Linked DNA regions of Homo sapiens. The protein of the gene in region 3 interacts with the protein of the main gene of each other region in a biochemical or structural test. Each region holds a gene or a part of one and is shown on either strand. Other genes may lie near its edges.

Evidence for each region.
Region 1: the proteins of PTPRZ1 (region 3) and TNR form a complex in vitro, tested with the Homo sapiens proteins (one study listed by BioGRID).
Region 2: of the proteins of PTPRZ1 (region 3) and MGAT5B, one has a biochemical effect on the other in vitro, tested with the Homo sapiens proteins (one study listed by BioGRID).

Annotation. Positions count from the first base shown.
Region 1 is NC_000001.11:175,314,683-175,320,612, forward strand, and holds the end of TNR (tenascin-R isoform 1 precursor), read right to left. Parts: 3' UTR 512-5,930; downstream 1-511. UniProt on the Homo sapiens protein: Neural extracellular matrix (ECM) protein involved in interactions with different cells and matrix components.
Region 2 is NC_000017.11:76,864,478-76,871,414, forward strand, and holds the start of MGAT5B (alpha-1,6-mannosylglycoprotein 6-beta-N-acetylglucosaminyltransferase B), read left to right. Parts: upstream 1-3,926; 5' UTR 3,927-4,552; coding exon 4,553-4,620; intron 4,621-6,937. UniProt on the Homo sapiens protein: Glycosyltransferase that acts on alpha-linked mannose of N-glycans and O-mannosyl glycans.
Region 3 is NC_000007.14:122,009,135-122,016,162, forward strand, and holds part of PTPRZ1 (receptor-type tyrosine-protein phosphatase zeta isoform 1 precursor), read left to right. Parts: intron 1-1,199; coding exon 1,200-4,755; intron 4,756-7,028. UniProt on the Homo sapiens protein: Protein tyrosine phosphatase that negatively regulates oligodendrocyte precursor proliferation in the embryonic spinal cord. Required for normal differentiation of the precursor cells into mature, fully myelinating oligodendrocytes.

The DNA.
Region 1 (5,930 bases), on a different chromosome or scaffold from region 3:
TGGTAAAAGCAAAGGGTGAGATGAAATTGGTGTTTTTACCTGAAAAGGCTGTTAAAGGTTAAAATGACAAAATAAAATTCAGAGGGTTTGGAGGATTTGGTGTTTACGATTCCTCAAAGTGGGTGGAAGGTAGGGAAGAAAGAGAAAGGAAGAGAGAGAGAAAGATGCAAAGAGAGAGAGAAAGATGCAAAGAGAGGAGAGAAGCAGGAGAGTAGAAGAGAGGAGAGAAGCAGGAGAGTAGAAAAGAGGAGAGAAGAAGGAGGGAAGAATGAGGAAGGGGGCTGAGATATTTAGGATATAATGAAAGCACAGAAACAGGGCGGACAAGGGGCATAGAAGGGGGAGCAGGGCCATGGGGGAGAACAGTCCACCCAAAGGGTGATGCGGAGAAGATGGGCTGGCAGAAGCAGGACTGAAATGTTAAGGAGGGGAGGCCCAGAGAAAAGAAGCCAGGCCCATTCTTAAGACAGGCATGCCCCCCAGTGCCCCTAGGACTCAGAAGACACGCATCTTTCTTTCAGGATCTTTTATTAACGTATAGAAAATGTGTTTAAAAAAGGAACTATACAGAGGCTAAAAGCAACCAGGACTAAAAATACTAGTTAACAATGGTTAACAAGCAGAGATTCCAGTCTTTGAGCTACAGTGCCATGAAAGGATCAGAGAAGTTGGTTTTTCCTCTCCCTTCCTCTGTACATTTTTATTTTTATTTTAGCTAATTAAAGTGTGCATCGTCTGAGGAGTATGTACTCCATTTTCTTTTTTTTTTCTTCCTTCCAGTCTTTCTTTTAAGTAAGCGCTTTTTCAAGCTCATTGTAGCTACAAAGTCAATAAATTGGTCTTTGTTATTTTTACCTGAAAAGGCTGTTAAAGGTTAAAATGACAAACTCAAATTCAAAGGGATTGGAGGATTTGGTGTTTATGATTTCTCAGAACAACAATCTAGAGACCACCAGGGTGGGTTTCAGCTGCTCGGAGCCCCAGTTAATGACCCCCTCAGTGTCACAGTGATTTGCTTAGGGTACTTGGGCATCCCCATGGGCCTGGGGAGTATTCGAGGTTGGAATCATTAGATGTGTGTGTTTGTGCATGTGCACCTGTGTATGTGTGCATGCATGTGTGTGTGTGCATGTGTGTGTGTGTGTGTGTGTGTGTGTGTGTGTGAATGATTGGAAGGAGGAGCCTGTGTGTTAACCAAAATAGACTCACATAGATTCTAAACCTTGAGTCTGTGGGACCATGGTGTGAGTCTGGGCCTCCGCAGTTGGTAAAGGAGCACTTAGTTGGCCGACATTTTTGCAGGAATTGAAGTGTCTATTGCATCTAATGCACAGGTGTCACTGCTGCCCAAGCAGCCCCCACACTGGAATGGAACCAGTGTTCTGGGGTTCTTTCTTGGGGAGATCTATTCCTTTATATATAAACATCATTCAATTAAAGGGAAGGGGTTTATGTCTGGAGTTTTGGCCTGGCAGCTAAAAATACCAGGTTGCCAAGTACTGATTTCCTTCTAAATTCCCCAAAGTAGCAGAGAAAGCTGATATTGTAGCCAACTGTCTTCTGATGCCTTCCCACCCACTAGGGATGTGGGGCAGGTAAGGAGTGGGGAAAAGAAACCAGGGGGATAAGTAAACTGAATGTATCTCCTGCCTTCTAGCCTCATTCCCCAAATATTTCCACTGATGTACTCCCGCAGGGGACTGTGAAGGTGTTTGTACCCCTGGGAGTCTGGAAGGAGGTAGCCTAAATCAGTCTACAACCTGCTGGAGTTAGCCTCAAAATTTATAGGATATCTGCATTTGTGCTATCCATACTGGTTTGAATACACTAATAATATAATCCTTTCTTCCCAAATTCTGGAGTAAAATTGATGCTCTGAGAACATGTGCCATGTTTATTCTGTGGCTTCTCCTTCCTCAATCCTGGCTACACTGCCTGCTCCAGCTTGAAAAAAATGACTGGATATCCCACTCTTCTAATGTTGGGATGTTCCCAAAAGAGTGGGGTGGGGGGTATTGGGTTTATGTTCTGGTTCTTATCTTCCCCCTCTCATTCTGTTGGGGACCCTCTCCCTCGTCTACCAAATTTAAAAAGAAAGAAAAGGAAAGAGATGTCAGAATGTTTCTTATTCCCCATGATGATGAGATTGAGGGTCCCCTGGAGTACATGGCAAAAATAATGCAAGAATTTCCTTTTCTTAAAAGTCAGAAGAAGTGGCATCAAAGCCCCCTTGTAAGAATATTAGTAAAATCCAAGATGGTGGTCACTCAGCTAAATAAATATAAAGAGCAGCCTCATGAAGTGGAAAAATCAAGGGCTTCAAAATTAGACAAAGGTTCAGATTATGGCTCTATTTAGTAGCTGTGTGACTTTGAGCATGTTACTTAACCTTCCTGGCCCTCCCTTCCCTCTTCTATAAAATGGTTAAACCTGACTTAAAGTTTATGGTGAGGATTTAGTAAAGTAATATATGTAAAGCCCTTTGCACAGTATCTGGTAAATAGTGGGTATGCAATAAATGCTATTTATCTTAGTGTTCATTTGTGGAGAATCAAATTAAAAAGCCTATACCAGACCCGAACTCAGCTCTGTTACTAATTGCCTGTGTGAATGTGAGCAAATTGCCTAAACTTTCTTGCCCTTGGTTTCCTTGAGAGGAAATAAAATGAGAGGATTATATTAGATGATCTTGAGTCCCATCCAGCTCTGAAAGTGTATTTCCAACATTTGCCTGTTGGAGGCAGTGTTGAGCATATTAGTGCTCCATGTCAGAATATTAAAGAGCAACACAGGGTCTCCCTAGGGGCTGCTAAACCAGTGATGGGAAGAAAATAACAGTTCATGCATTCTTGTCCTTGTGTTCACTTACTGACAGTGCATCTGGACTGAAACCCTTTCTTGTGACCTAGGTGTTCTAGACCTGTTGGGTGTATGGCTTGCTTCTCAGGGAAGATGTTTGCACCACCTGACCTGAATCCATGGTGCCAGTGAGTGAGTGCCAGTACCCAGGAGAGCTGGCCTCATAAGGATAATAGAGTTAAATGTTTTTGAACTGGAACTTTAGCATTAGCCTGGCTTCATGGCCCAGACAATAAGGAGCTGTTTTATGAAGTTATCAGAGGGGGCTGAGTGTGTCTGAGGAACAAGAGCTGTGTTATTTGGATGCACTGCAAGAGCCTTATTAAGCTTGAGGAAGGAGAGAGGATTTCCCCTTTGGAGAAAATGCAACACTGTCCAAAGACTGTGAGGTTTGCCAAGGACATTTGGACAATGAAGTGCTGCAGGTGCAATGAAGTCATGTTTCAGGCAAAGATTGACCTTAAAAAAATAAACAGAATGCTGGAGATGACAAATCAGGCTTGTGACTACTGGTGACGCAAAAGTCAGATCCAGGCAGAACTGGTTGAGCAAAGAAAGAAAGTCCTTCTGCTTCTGGTTTTCGGTGCAGTGACAGGCCTTGGTGCCTTAGTTTCTCCTCAAGTTAAGTGGGTGAATGGCAGAAGCTCTGGTGGGAGGCTGGAGGCCAGAACGTGAGAAGCCAATGCTGCTTCCTCTCCCATGGCCGCTCCTGCCTTGTCTCTGCCTTTCAGTGTGGTGCCACCGGTAGAAGGCTTGTTTTGAATCTCCAATGATCCATCAGCTTCTTCTTAATTTTATATTTTTCTTCTTTCCACCTGTTTCTCAAGGCTTGATGAATGTAGAACTGGCATAAACAAATCCAGAGTGGATACAATTAGAAAGAACCAGAGACATTTTTTCAAATTGGACCTGAATCTACACCAATACATCATCTTAAAGCATATAGGAGTTACTTTCCCTGCTTGCTTTTGAAAGTTTTCATTTGGTCTGTGAGTTCTCATCTGGACTGGTAGTGTCCAAATGACCCAGTATTGTTGAAGAAAGCTTTATCACATATGTGTAGGATTGGGTTATGGAAGAAGCAAAGGTTTGAGGAGGCATTCAGCTAAACATCTTCAGGAATGTGGTCAAAGAGAGGCTACAGGAACAACCCCAGGGGCCAGCCTGTAACTCAGCTTTCTTTAGAGGATAGACCCTCTCTGTCATGGTAACCTGGATGAAAGCAGACCATCAGGGAAGTGAGGCAGAGCTGAGTATGCAGCTCCTGGCATCTGGGTGGGAGGCAGACTCCCAGACTTCACACATCTGCCCCATTCCTCTGAGGTCCTGAGACTCCTCCTGCAGCCGTGGCAAGTTTGAAGCAAGTGAAAACAAATTATCCCAACTTCTTTGGGATTATTGAAACTGAACTGAATTTTGAATCTTTCAGAGGTTTCTTAATAAAAATTTAAGAGTGGACAGTGAGATGCAAGGAAGGCGGAAAGTGTCCCCCAACCCCATGCCCTACCTCCTTGGAAGAAAAGACATGGAACTAAGAAATCAGATTGACTAGTATTCTGGTGATAAGAAAGCAAGCAGTAGAATACCATATATCCTGGGCATGTGGCCCCACCTTTCCTGAAATTCTGGGTGGAGGTTACAAAAAAGAAAAAGAAAAAGAAAAAATGTTTTCATGTCCCTAGGGTATTTGCAAATCCAGGTCACCAGCTAGTCTATTTCAACACCCATAGCTTGGTGTATCTAGTGTTCTTGCATGTTCTGTCTTTTCTCCAGAGGAGAGGACAAAGAGGAACTCATAAACTCTTTCCCAACTGATGCTTTTACAAGAGCTATTTGAAAAGATTCCACAATGACTTTTTGTCCCTTAATCTACAGCTCTGCTCTGAGACTGGATTTGAAAAGTAAAAATGTGATTAGGATTGTTTGGTTTGGCATTGAGGTTATTGGCAACCATGGTTCTTTAGGTCTGGCTTTGAAATATCAGGGTGCTGGTTGGTTCTCAGGTGGAAGGAAGCGGGGCATTAGGAGTCCTACCACTTTATGAGTAGTAGAGGGGGAAGTTGGTAGGTGAGGGACAGGTGGATTCAAATATTTGTAGATGTTTGCTTTGCATTTCCTTGCTGCCATATGTTGTTGTTGTTCTTTTACAAATCAATCTCCCATACAAATCAGCTGGCCGGTTTTCCTGAGTCCTGGTTTGGCTCTCCTGGAAACTTGGAGACGTGGCCTTTCTCAACCCCGCTGACGTTTCACACGGGGTTTCAGGAGGTGACTGCCACCTTGTGGCCACACTTAGCAAGTCCCCTTCCACCAGTTCACTGTGGTCTCAAGGCCAACAGTTTTCCACAGACTTGTCATTCTTGCCACCTCTTCTACACCTGACCCCTTCACCTTCCAGAAATAACCCTGGTGAATGTGCATCTGATATGTTGGAAATTATCTTTATATGTTGGGGAAATGCAAAAAAGGGAAACTGCCTGGACCTTGGGTCTAGACAGTGAATCTATTGCAGTCATTGGTGGTGGTTTTGGTTTTGGGTATTAGTACATATCCTGATGTGTCTGTAGTTAAACAGCCTCTGAGAAGGGTCTACCTCGATTCCTTTTGAGTCCCTTGAGGGAAACTGGTGTGCATAGGGTGGGTGCTTTGAGAGTATTGCTTACTGGATCTACCTTTGGGAAATGCAGTTGTGCTTGGAGGAGCAGGATAAGCAGGAATCAGCGAGGAAAGTTATGAGCATTGAGTCAAGTTGACCATAGACCTTGGGATGAGAGTGGGGCACAGTGTCTTTTAAACATGGTGAAAACTCATGAGAAAATCACCCTATTAAATAAAAGGAATCTATAAATCCTTTTATAGAGGGTTGAATAAGCTGATCTTTGAAGTCTCTTTCTTGCTTCAAAATAAAGCTATGCAATGCCGCTGGTACTATTTATAAAAATGTTCCATAGTGTAGAATGGTTTCAATAAAAGGAAGATTTTTGTTTCCACTGATGTTTCTTGACTTTCACCTGAATTGACAACACATAATCTTTTTCCATTTCAACTTCCTTGATGAAGTGGGCGTGCTG
Region 2 (6,937 bases), on a different chromosome or scaffold from region 3:
TTGGTCAGGCTAGTCTCGAACTCCTGACCTCATGATCTGCCCACCTCGGCCTCCTAAAGTGCTGGGATTATAGGCGTGAGCCACCGCACCTGGCTTTTTTTTTTTTTTTTTTTTTTTTTGAGACGGAGTCTTGCACTGTGGTCCAGGCTAGAGTGCAGTGGTGTGATCTCAGCTCACTGCAGCCTCCATCTCCCAGGTTCAAGCGATTCTCCTGCCTCAGTCTCCTGAGTAGCTGGGATTACAGTCACCCGCCACCAGACCCAACTAATTTTTTGTATTTTTAGTAGAGACGGGGTTTCACTATGTTAGCCAGGCTGGTCTCGAATGCCTGACCTTGTGATCCACTCGCCTTGGCCTCCCAAAGTGGTGAGATTACAGGCATGAGCCACCGCGCCCTGCCAGGAACTGCTATATTTAGGGCACCCGGGTGAATGTGCATCCTGCTCTGCATTTGGCTGGTTGTGGGTCTGTTGATAGCTTCAGGAGAGAAACAGTGAAGAGGGATGGGGTTTGGAAATGGGTACACCTGATGTCAGTCCTTATTTATTTATTATTTTATAAGAGACAGGGCGTCGCACTGTCACACAGGCTGGAGTGCGGTGGTGCGCTCATAGCTTACTGCGGCCTCGATCTCCTGGGCTCAAGTGATCCTCCTGCCTCAGCTTCCTGCGTAGCTGGGACTACAGGTGCATGACACCACACCTGGATAAGTTTTAAAGTTTTTGGTAGAGATGGGGTCTCACTATGTTGCTCAGGCTGGTTGTCTCAAGCTCTTGGCTTAGGCATTCCTTCTGCCTTAGACTCCCAAAGTGCTGGGATTACGGGCGTGAGTCACGGCGCCTGGCCCACCGTCAGTCCTTGGCCGGGCCCTGCAGCAGGTGCCGCCGTTCCTACTCCCCTGTTCTCTGGCTTGCTTCCAGAGACTTTCCTTTCTCCTCAGGAGGCCACAAGTATTTGTCTAGAACAGTGCTTCCCCACCTTGCCTGTGTCGGCATAACCTGTGGCATCAATGCACCAGCGTGCCCAGGCTGCACCTCAGGTACTGGATCAGAATAAGGACAATTTTGCTAAATTCTGCAGGTGATTCTGCTGGAATCTGGGCTGAGAACCACCAGTCGATGAGGCAGGATCTTGGGATCTTGGTGTGGGTCCCCCAGAAACAGATGCTCAGAATAGGATTCTGCAAGTGGTTTATTTGGATGGTGACCCCAGGAACATTGACCGGGGAGTGGAATGAGACAGGAGGGAAGGGAGTGAACACAGGGGCATCACAGGGCTGGCTACACCACGGGTGACTGGAGCTCAAACTTGCTGGGAACCTGGGGAGCCACGGGGTAACACGCCGCGGAGTATCCCCCTTAGGAAGAGGGAGTGGGGGTGTCTATCCACTGCTTGAGGGCTGCTGCCAGGGTGTTGATCCTTTGTCCAGGGTCCTTTCTTCTTGCCCTTTTGTGTTCTAGCATATTCCCACAGCCATTAAAAAAAAGTCCTCAGGCAGAGAGTTGAAGGTGTTCTCAGTCATCTGCCTCTTAGCTTGCAGAGGTGACTGCAGTGGGAACCAGGACTGGGCACAAACAGCATCTGTTCCTGACGGACAGTAACAACCATCAGAACCACCATGCTTGAAAGGCTCAGGAGGTCCTGGCAACGGGCTACTTACCTGCATTAAGCGGCTCAATCCTCAGAACAGCTCTATGAAGCAGGTTATAAGGAGCCCCACTTATAGTTGAGGAAACTGAGGCATGAAGAGGTTATACCCAAGACTGCATGATGTGGGATTCACAGTTTTTCTCCTAATGCCTACAGCACAGTGGAGAGCAAGCAGGACTGTTTACACTGAACTTTACTGCAGACAAGAGGCCAAAAAAAGGGGACAGACTTCAAAAGGGACAGGCAGCTGGACAATCTGGCTTGCAAAATGCCACTGGCTGGCCCAGCATAGTGGCTCATGCCTGTAATACCAGCACTTTGGGAGGCCGAGGCAAGCGGATCACTTGAGGTCAGGAGTTTGAGAGCAGCCTGGCCAACATGGCGAAACCTGTCTCTACTAAAAATACAAAAATTTTGCATTTTTATAGGCATTTATTACAGGTATCGTGGCACGTGCCTGTAATCCCAGCTACTCAAGAGGCTGAGGCAGAAGAATCTCTTGAACCCAAAAGGCGGAGTTTGCAGTGAGCCGAGATTGCGCCACTGTACTCCAGCCTGGGAAACAGAGCGAGACTCCATCTCAAAAAAAAAAAAAAAAAAAAAAAAAAGTCACTGGCTGTCCTCTGCTTGCTTCCCTCCCTGGCCCAAGCCAGCCGTCAAATGGCAGAGAGGCTTTCCCGCTCCAACTTCAAAGTCCAGATCTAAGGGTGTGTGGCCCAGGGGAAGAGGGGAGTACCTTCCCCTACCTTCTAAATTCTGGCTTCTGTGGAGGGTAGGCCACCTCCCCAGATGACCCACACCAGAGGTGGCCATGCCTTCTAGGGAACCCCATCTCCACCACTGAGGAAGAGGCTTCCCCTTTGGCCTAAAATGGCAACCAGATATAAATGCCACCCCCTAAGCCTACTCAATCAGAAGAACCCCCAATCAGAAGAGAGACACCTAATCAGAAGGACCATTTCATTCCTTAGTGTAGATATGGCTTATTGCCAGGATTTGTGGCAGATGTAGGCACCCAGGCATGAGATGTGATTTACAGGCCTGGCAGAGACCTCTGCCCTCCAACATCTCCTTAGCCAGCCTGCCACGATGCCCAAATTTCCGGCCACCATTCATCACTCTTCTGCACAAAGGCACGGTCAGCATGTCCTTGTTCAATGCAAATTTGTTACCTAGCCTGTGTAACACATTATATCTGCTAACACCAATTTATCACCCATTTTCACATTAGCAGAGAGCAAGGCAGTGAGATAATGGAACTCAGCACCGGTAAATTTTGATGAAGAAGGAGCAGCAAAGCAGAGAGCGTGAGTCATGGCCAGTGAGTAATGGCCCAGGAAGGGGGCCGGGAGGTGGGCAGGGCAGGCAGCAAGGGGCCTGGGTATGGGGGATTGGAGGGGACCAGGCCCAGCTGGAGGAAAATAAAGTCTCCTCCTCGCATAAGCCAGGCTGCAGCATCGTGGCCTGAGCTGGGAAGACCCTCAGAGTCATTTGACACATGACTGAGGCTTTGGGCACTTCCCAGGGTGGGGTGGTCAGATATGACCTCGGGAAGTGCTTTTGAAGCCGGAGAGCTTTCTTCAGGCTGGCTCTGCGAGCTCCCAGGAGTCTCTGTCTCTGCAACTGCAAACACATCTCCAGAGCCAGGAAGTACGAGGAGGGGGAGGGGAGGACGCCTAGATGCTAAGAGACGACATGAGATCCTACATGCTTTAGGGTTGCAAGGGACCTTGGTGAGCTTCTGGTCACTATCATTTCATAATGGAGACTCTGAGACGTGCACACTTGATCGCCCACTGGCTAGTGGAGGATCTGGGGCTACAACTCAGTACGCCCCTGCGCCTGGCTCTGTGAGCGGGCCCCAGCACCACAGGCCGAGTTTATACTCAGATCAGTAAGCAAAGAGGAGCCACGGGAGTTTCTGACCAGGGAGGGGCAGAAGATAGGCATGTGTTGCCAAGCGAAATCGTGGGAAGCGGCTGATGAGGAAGCCCACGGAGGCACCTGGCAGAAGAGAAGGGTCTCCGCTGGGTGCGCATCTCTTCTGTGCTCTGCGGGAGCCAAAGCAGCTTTCGGCCCTCGGGGCTGGTGGCGCCCTGGGAAGCTGCTTGGCTCAGGGGAAGGAGCAGGGACCCCCGCCCGCCCGTCCTCGAAGCTGGTCCTCGGCGTCCCAGCCCCGCACGGCCCCGGGCAGGGCGCACAGCGGGGCTGCGGCCACGAGGTGGCGCCGGCGCGCCTTGGAAGCGCAGCTGCAGCTCCCGGGCCGCCCCAGCGCCGCTCGGCCGCCTCCTCCGAGGAACAATGCGGCGCCTCCGGGCGTAGCGTCGCGCGGGGCCGGACGCCGGACACCAGAGCGCGGGCGGCGGAGCCAGCGGGCGAGAGAGCGCGCGGCGGGCGCGGGTTGCCCTCGTCGAGAGCCATGGGCGCGGCGCGGCGCGGGGCTGAGGATCGGCGCGGCCCGGAGGCGCTGGGGACCGGGGCGCGGGCCCGGGGCCGCCTTTAGCCGGCACCGAGGGCGCGGGGCCGGGGATGAGGGCGCCCGCCGCGGGGAGCCCGTCTGCGCGCCGCGGCACCTTCCCGCCCAGCGAGCGAGCCCGAGCAGGCAGACGCGCGGCCGGCGGTCTGGGGGCGCGCCGCCTCCCGGTCCCCAAAATGTGAAGCGGGGAGGGCGGAGACGCAGAGACGGCCCGGCCGGGCGCCCTCGCCGCCCTCCGGCAGCCGCGCCGCTCCCTCCGCTGCACGCCCAGGCCTGAGCAGCGAGGCCACCGGGCCGCGCGCTCCCAGCTTCGCTCGGACGCGGCTTCGGCCCGCAGAGGGTTCGTGGCCCGGACGCGGCGAGAGCTGGGCCCAGGACGGTGCGTCCGGCCTCGCCCGCGGCTGCTCGCACCAACAAGTTTGAACAATGATCACCGTCAACCCCGATGGGAAGATAATGGTCAGAAGATGCCTGGTCACCCTGAGACCCTTTCGGTAAAGTTCCCTCCTGGTTGGTTTTTTCCCCAGGGGGGCGCCGGGTGGAGGTGGGCGAGGTCGGTTCCTGCGAACGTTCAAGTCCTGGTGGCAGAGGGGGCGGTTCACACTTCAACCCCTGGTGATGACCAGTGGGGCTGGGCTGGGGGAACGGATGGCGTTGGGGTTCGGGGTGCGGATGGGGAGGGTTGTGTTATTCGGGGACCTGTCCCGAGTTGGGCAGGGTTGGAGAGGACTCGGGGTGCAGAGGTAAGAATGGGGGCAGAAAACCCCCAGGTCGTGGTCCTGGGCCCAGAAAGTTGCCCCAGCCTGCGCGCCCCTTCCCAGCCCCTCAGGGTCCTTCCTCACCCCGCGGACGGTCCCATCCGGGTGGCAAAGTTAGTGTGCGGCGCCTTGGAGCTCCCCCTCCGGTCCCTCCCGTCCCGCCCGTCTGCCCCTAGGTCGGCTACCCCCCAACCCCTCCGCCTGTGCCACCCTCTCCCCAGCCTTTGGTGGCACTGCTCTCCTCCCCGCGGGGCTCGGGCCTGGCTCCGACGAGAGGGTCCCGAGATTAGAGCGAGGACTCGCTCATCCCAGGATTCGCCCCCGATCGCAGGCGTCGGAGAGGCGGGGGCAGGGGCGGCGCTGCAGGGCTACGGGGCGGCTGGAGCCGAGGCTGCGGCGGAGCGTGGTGGGCGGGCGGTGGCGAAGGCGACACGCTTCGGGCGGCCAACACCTGGGGGCCCAGGCCAGGCAGGGCTGGGGCCGCGCGGGACTCACTGGACCCAGCCAGGGGCCCCCAGGGCCCAGCGGTGCCGGGGCAGCCCCCTCTCCTCCCAGGCATCCGCGGAACCGGCCCGCAGCGGGGTGGGGAGGGGGCGCTGCCCAGTGGACGCCCGGCGGGGCCCGAGTGTCACCCCGTGGGTAGCTGGGCAGCGAGGAAGCTGGGGGAGTGACCGCCCCGGCGCGGGGGCCGGACTCGGGACGTGGCCACAGGTGGGCTCCGGGCGCGGGAAGGAGCCCGAGAAGGCGGAGCTTGCAGGGGCCCTGAACTCTTGCCCTCCAGGTCTCGGCCCAGCCCCACTGTGGTCCCCCTGCCGGCTCCAGACGGGGATGGGGGCGGGGAGACGGTGGCTCACCTGGAGCCCGCCTCCCAGCACACCGGGCCTGTCTGCTGGGCCGAGGAGGCAACCCCAGGGGACGGCAGGGGTCAGGCTGGACCTCTGCGGTCCGGGGGTCCGGGAGGCCCGGAGAGCTGGTGCAGGCCGTGGGTGGTGATGGGGGCGTCGGGAGCCCATGGGAAGCAGGGCGGGAAGCAGGCGTCTCTGGAAAGGGCCTTGCTCCTCCAGGGAAGGCCTTGAATCCCTGGCCTGACTGGGAACGCTGGAGGGTCCTCGCCCCTTCCGACCCCATCCCTGTCCCGCCCTCCGGGCCGCTGGGTGTTTCCTGGCGCGATTGGAAGCAGCCGCGAGACCCCAGCACCACGGACAGTGCTCGCGACCCAGGGCTGCTTCCCTGTCTGGTCCTGCCCTGGTTTTCTTTCAGGCCCTTATCTGAAGGCAGGATTGGGGGTGGAGGTGCATGGGTCCCCAAAGTTGTGTAACTTCACCCCAGGGTCTCCCTGGGCTGCCCGGAGACCCGCAGCCATCAGTGAGTCCCTTCAGTTGAGGTGGGGGGCAGGCTGCAATCATAGCACCCCAGCTTATTCATCCTCAAAGGCAGGCTGGGGTCCTGTTCCCTGTGGTTTTCCCAGGGCTGCTGGCAGGGTCTTTATTCCATAGGTGCCCCTGGAATGTTGCTTGAGTGGATACATGGATGGCTGAAGCCATTTTAACTTGAATCCACTCCAAATGGCCCCCAGCTGCCTTGGGGGACATTGAACCCCAGGATGGGGTTCTGGCAGAGGGAGATGCAGATGAGGTGTGTTAGGGGGCTTCAGGTTCTGGGCTGAAGGGGGTAGACACCTTTCTCATAGCAGGGTTGTTGGATCCTGGCAGGCAGCCCAGGTCCCCAGCTCTAAATACAACTCCTTCACTCCCCTGGCCTCTTCTCCAGGGACTAGAGACATGAGTGGGGGAAGTCCGTCCTTGTCCTCAGACTGGGAGGACAAATAGCTGATTTCCCCTGGGATCTCCCTGAGCATGGGACAGCACCTCTCCTGTGCCATGGCCGTGGCTGTTGTCTCCAGAGCCACCTGACTTCCTCTGAGGGACCCCAAGATCTGAGCCCCACCCCCAGGCTTGGTGGAATTCCGTGAGGCGTCCCTCTGCGCTAAGGAAAGTGTCCCTTGCGCGGTCTTGCCTACTGAATCATGTCTCCTGTCCTTCCTGCTGGGGGT
Region 3 (7,028 bases):
CTAAAGTTGTCACTTATGCTTCAGAAGATACTCACGACCAGCCAAATAATTAAGCTGTAAATAATGAGGCAGCCATTAAGCTTGGAATCGTGTGTTTCATACAGTGCAGATTTCCGTGTGTATGACACATGCTCATGAGCACACACAGCTTAAGATTCAGATTCTTTCTACTGATACTGGTCAAGTTCTCAATGGCTGTACTCAGTAATTTTTTTCTTTTAAGGAACATGGCCTTAAAATATCTAATAGATGATCAAATAAATGACAATTCTAACAAGCTGTTGGGTACAAAGATACTGACAAAATCATGTCCCACATGAACTAAAAAAAAAAAAAAAACTTGATAACTTTGGCAATTGAGTTTTCTAAGTATATAATTAGATATAATATACCCAGTTTTATGTATATATACGTATATGTATATATATACATATATTGAATCTTCCATGCAATGAAGATTATGCTTAAAGCATAGGTCTTGGTTAACTTCTAGCTAGAAGACTAGACGTCTCCTCCTGGGTCATTGCATGGAAGATTCAGCCTCCTGAATGGTGATTCTAAGGGAAACACAAAATTAAAAAACTAGGAGTAGAATCATATATTGACAAGTTGCCTTTGAAATATCTGCCTAAGTCTTAAGTGGAAAATATTAAAAAACAAAAGGAAAAGAAAACCAAACACCTCTTTTAGTTCTAAATCTTCCCCTTATTATGACCTTAAAATTATGATTTGCTCTAAATAGATATAATTAAATATTCTGAATGTTCAACTACTTTGGTCTTTAAAATAGTTTCATCGCCAATTCTTATTACAATAAGCTAATGGCTATTTACCTTGATGCCTGATGAACAAAGAAATATAAAAACAATAAAATAAATGCCATGTTAAATAACACTGTCAATAAATAACTACAGTGTGTCTTCCTTTTAAATATGTGGTATCTATTCATTTAACCACTTCTTTCCATAGCATTAAAATAAAGGCGGCCATAAATTAGGTGTTTTCATTACGTTTAATTACTCCCCTGTAGAGCGGATGGTAAAGGTTGTAGGTTAGAGGTATGCATTGTACAGAATGGTGTTTTATGAGGATGAGAAGTTCCCAAGATACCACAAGTGATGATTGGCAGTGTAAGATATGAAGATTTTCTTTTTCTCTTATTTCCTTATGACTCATTAAATCTTGTTTGCTTTTCAAAGGAGGAGGAAGAGGGAAAAGACATTGAAGAAGGCGCTATTGTGAATCCTGGTAGAGACAGTGCTACAAACCAAATCAGGAAAAAGGAACCCCAGATTTCTACCACAACACACTACAATCGCATAGGGACGAAATACAATGAAGCCAAGACTAACCGATCCCCAACAAGAGGAAGTGAATTCTCTGGAAAGGGTGATGTTCCCAATACATCTTTAAATTCCACTTCCCAACCAGTCACTAAATTAGCCACAGAAAAAGATATTTCCTTGACTTCTCAGACTGTGACTGAACTGCCACCTCACACTGTGGAAGGTACTTCAGCCTCTTTAAATGATGGCTCTAAAACTGTTCTTAGATCTCCACATATGAACTTGTCGGGGACTGCAGAATCCTTAAATACAGTTTCTATAACAGAATATGAGGAGGAGAGTTTATTGACCAGTTTCAAGCTTGATACTGGAGCTGAAGATTCTTCAGGCTCCAGTCCCGCAACTTCTGCTATCCCATTCATCTCTGAGAACATATCCCAAGGGTATATATTTTCCTCCGAAAACCCAGAGACAATAACATATGATGTCCTTATACCAGAATCTGCTAGAAATGCTTCCGAAGATTCAACTTCATCAGGTTCAGAAGAATCACTAAAGGATCCTTCTATGGAGGGAAATGTGTGGTTTCCTAGCTCTACAGACATAACAGCACAGCCCGATGTTGGATCAGGCAGAGAGAGCTTTCTCCAGACTAATTACACTGAGATACGTGTTGATGAATCTGAGAAGACAACCAAGTCCTTTTCTGCAGGCCCAGTGATGTCACAGGGTCCCTCAGTTACAGATCTGGAAATGCCACATTATTCTACCTTTGCCTACTTCCCAACTGAGGTAACACCTCATGCTTTTACCCCATCCTCCAGACAACAGGATTTGGTCTCCACGGTCAACGTGGTATACTCGCAGACAACCCAACCGGTATACAATGGTGAGACACCTCTTCAACCTTCCTACAGTAGTGAAGTCTTTCCTCTAGTCACCCCTTTGTTGCTTGACAATCAGATCCTCAACACTACCCCTGCTGCTTCAAGTAGTGATTCGGCCTTGCATGCTACGCCTGTATTTCCCAGTGTCGATGTGTCATTTGAATCCATCCTGTCTTCCTATGATGGTGCACCTTTGCTTCCATTTTCCTCTGCTTCCTTCAGTAGTGAATTGTTTCGCCATCTGCATACAGTTTCTCAAATCCTTCCACAAGTTACTTCAGCTACCGAGAGTGATAAGGTGCCCTTGCATGCTTCTCTGCCAGTGGCTGGGGGTGATTTGCTATTAGAGCCCAGCCTTGCTCAGTATTCTGATGTGCTGTCCACTACTCATGCTGCTTCAGAGACGCTGGAATTTGGTAGTGAATCTGGTGTTCTTTATAAAACGCTTATGTTTTCTCAAGTTGAACCACCCAGCAGTGATGCCATGATGCATGCACGTTCTTCAGGGCCTGAACCTTCTTATGCCTTGTCTGATAATGAGGGCTCCCAACACATCTTCACTGTTTCTTACAGTTCTGCAATACCTGTGCATGATTCTGTGGGTGTAACTTATCAGGGTTCCTTATTTAGCGGCCCTAGCCATATACCAATACCTAAGTCTTCGTTAATAACCCCAACTGCATCATTACTGCAGCCTACTCATGCCCTCTCTGGTGATGGGGAATGGTCTGGAGCCTCTTCTGATAGTGAATTTCTTTTACCTGACACAGATGGGCTGACAGCCCTTAACATTTCTTCACCTGTTTCTGTAGCTGAATTTACATATACAACATCTGTGTTTGGTGATGATAATAAGGCGCTTTCTAAAAGTGAAATAATATATGGAAATGAGACTGAACTGCAAATTCCTTCTTTCAATGAGATGGTTTACCCTTCTGAAAGCACAGTCATGCCCAACATGTATGATAATGTAAATAAGTTGAATGCGTCTTTACAAGAAACCTCTGTTTCCATTTCTAGCACCAAGGGCATGTTTCCAGGGTCCCTTGCTCATACCACCACTAAGGTTTTTGATCATGAGATTAGTCAAGTTCCAGAAAATAACTTTTCAGTTCAACCTACACATACTGTCTCTCAAGCATCTGGTGACACTTCGCTTAAACCTGTGCTTAGTGCAAACTCAGAGCCAGCATCCTCTGACCCTGCTTCTAGTGAAATGTTATCTCCTTCAACTCAGCTCTTATTTTATGAGACCTCAGCTTCTTTTAGTACTGAAGTATTGCTACAACCTTCCTTTCAGGCTTCTGATGTTGACACCTTGCTTAAAACTGTTCTTCCAGCTGTGCCCAGTGATCCAATATTGGTTGAAACCCCCAAAGTTGATAAAATTAGTTCTACAATGTTGCATCTCATTGTATCAAATTCTGCTTCAAGTGAAAACATGCTGCACTCTACATCTGTACCAGTTTTTGATGTGTCGCCTACTTCTCATATGCACTCTGCTTCACTTCAAGGTTTGACCATTTCCTATGCAAGTGAGAAATATGAACCAGTTTTGTTAAAAAGTGAAAGTTCCCACCAAGTGGTACCTTCTTTGTACAGTAATGATGAGTTGTTCCAAACGGCCAATTTGGAGATTAACCAGGCCCATCCCCCAAAAGGAAGGCATGTATTTGCTACACCTGTTTTATCAATTGATGAACCATTAAATACACTAATAAATAAGCTTATACATTCCGATGAAATTTTAACCTCCACCAAAAGTTCTGTTACTGGTAAGGTATTTGCTGGTATTCCAACAGTTGCTTCTGATACATTTGTATCTACTGATCATTCTGTTCCTATAGGAAATGGGCATGTTGCCATTACAGCTGTTTCTCCCCACAGAGATGGTTCTGTAACCTCAACAAAGTTGCTGTTTCCTTCTAAGGCAACTTCTGAGCTGAGTCATAGTGCCAAATCTGATGCCGGTTTAGTGGGTGGTGGTGAAGATGGTGACACTGATGATGATGGTGATGATGATGATGATGACAGAGGTAGTGATGGCTTATCCATTCATAAGTGTATGTCATGCTCATCCTATAGAGAATCACAGGAAAAGGTAATGAATGATTCAGACACCCACGAAAACAGTCTTATGGATCAGAATAATCCAATCTCATACTCACTATCTGAGAATTCTGAAGAAGATAATAGAGTCACAAGTGTATCCTCAGACAGTCAAACTGGTATGGACAGAAGTCCTGGTAAATCACCATCAGCAAATGGGCTATCCCAAAAGCACAATGATGGAAAAGAGGAAAATGACATTCAGACTGGTAGTGCTCTGCTTCCTCTCAGCCCTGAATCTAAAGCATGGGCAGTTCTGACAAGTGATGAAGAAAGTGGATCAGGGCAAGGTACCTCAGATAGCCTTAATGAGAATGAGACTTCCACAGATTTCAGTTTTGCAGACACTAATGAAAAAGATGCTGATGGGATCCTGGCAGCAGGTGACTCAGAAATAACTCCTGGATTCCCACAGTCCCCAACATCATCTGTTACTAGCGAGAACTCAGAAGTGTTCCACGTTTCAGAGGCAGGTTAGTTACGGATCAGAAGGACAGATTGAGGTGTGGTGGTTTGCTTGCTCTAAAAGTAAAATGAAAATTATAGAAAGATAGAAATTTGGTAAAATGGTACATCATCATTTTTAAAATCAAAACATTCAACAAATCAGTCTCCAGTTTCTGAAGTATAATTTTATTTATTATTTCAAACAATTATTTAACACATTTTGGTTTTTAATTTAATTCTCTCCAAAATAGACAAAACAATTTTTATTTATTGTCAATATTTCATACTCTACAGGATGTCTTTTATGGGTGGGGGCAATTCTGTTTGCATAATACATTTTTAGTACACTGCTTTTAAAGCAAGATCAGAGTATGCTATTTTAGATGATTTTAATTTTCATACTTTTGTTCTAAAATAAGTTGTAAACTAATTCTATTTAATTATAAAATGAATTATTAAATCTGAGAGTAATGTGACATAAGCACTTCTCTCTGACACACCCCTGTAGAAAGGAATTAGTTAATTTCCACATTCATATCAGCTTGGGGAGCTTTATTTATTATTATTATTTAATTAATTAATTAATTAATTTTGAGACGGAGTCTCGCTCTGTCGCCCAGGCTGGAGTGCAGTGGTGCAATCTCGGCTTACTACAAGCTCCGCCTCCCAGGTTCACGCCATTCTCCTGCCTCAGCCTCCCGAGTAGCTGAGACTACAGGCGCCCACCACCACGCCAGGCTAATTTTGTGTATTTTTAGTAAAGACGGGGTTTCACCATGTTAGCCAGGATGGTCTTGATCTCCTGACCTCGTGATCCACCCGCCTCGGCCTCCCAAAATGTTGGGATTACAGGCGTGAGCCACTGCACCAGGCCAGGGAGGTATTTATGTATTTATTTATTTATTTAGTTTTATTACTAAGTTTTGAGAGTTAATAATGAAGTTAAAAAAAATTTTAATTTTTTTGTCTTTCTTTATCTTAATGTTGCCTAAAGAGGGCAGTGTAAACCATCAAAATACATTTTACTTTATGCCTGCTGTTACACACTTTTTTAAGTTAAATAATGGGCATTAATATGTACAGTATGTATAGGTATTGTATCACAAGATGTAAAACACTAAACATTTTTCTGTAGAAATGAATTTCATTTGTGAATGTATTTTATGCAAATTAGCTTACTGACCAGATGTTTCTTAGAGCAGATTATGTGCAGTGTTTATAATACAGATGTCTGCTTTAAATGCCAATGGAAAGAAGAGGGAAGTTCAATCCTATTAAGTATAGAAAAGTAATACTTTCATTGAATTGGTCATAAGAATTTTATAATTTGCTTTTATTAAATGTGAACGTATCTTAAAGTTTAATAATGAAACTATTTAAATCTTAACATCAAGTTAAATGATAGGCTAATGTAACAAAATGCACTCATTGTATAAAAGTGAATATTTGTAATCCAGAACATAGACATCAGTCTCATTAGAATATTTTTCCTCTTTGCGATTTCATCTTTTTAATTAGTTGTATATTTTTTCTTCAGTGCAGCAGCAATTAAAAGTTTGTACATTTTGATAGAAAACTTTTTCTGTATTCTGAATTGATACCTATTTAACATTGCATTTTAAACACTTAAATGCTGATATGTGAGAATGAATAATGAATCCATAGGTCACTATAGTCATTAGTGCTGTCATATATATGAACTGTTATCTGTTCTCAATTATAGTAGCTGCTTTTTAGTTTTCATTAGATTTATGTTAAAAGAAAATATCAGGAATCCATCTATCTGTCTTACCAGGTAGTGACATTGATACGTTCTTGCTAGACTATGCTATTATAGAAGGATATATATAATGAGATGCTAAACCTAAAATTATTGACTAAAGCTTAGCAAATTTCTCTTCAGTGCACTAATTAGTTTTATTTAATTATCAAGAGTGTGTTCTCCCACTAATTAGGATAAAACAATATGAATATGACATCCAACATTATCAAGTAACATAATTAGTGAAGTAAATAAGATCAAACAAGATTAGGGGAAAATTCTGGCCTATTTTTAAAACTGTATCTATAAAATCATATGTAATCTGTCTTATCCAATAATTGAATATATCCCTTTATCAAATGCATGCAGACTAGCTCTGAAACTTAAGATTTTATGGTGTATTTCTAGAATGCAGAACAATTTACAGGATGTGTTCTTTAAAATACTATAGATAAGGCAAATATTAGTATCCACAATTTATAAATGAGTACACTGACACCCAAAGATACTAGATTATTTGATCCAGGTCACATGAGT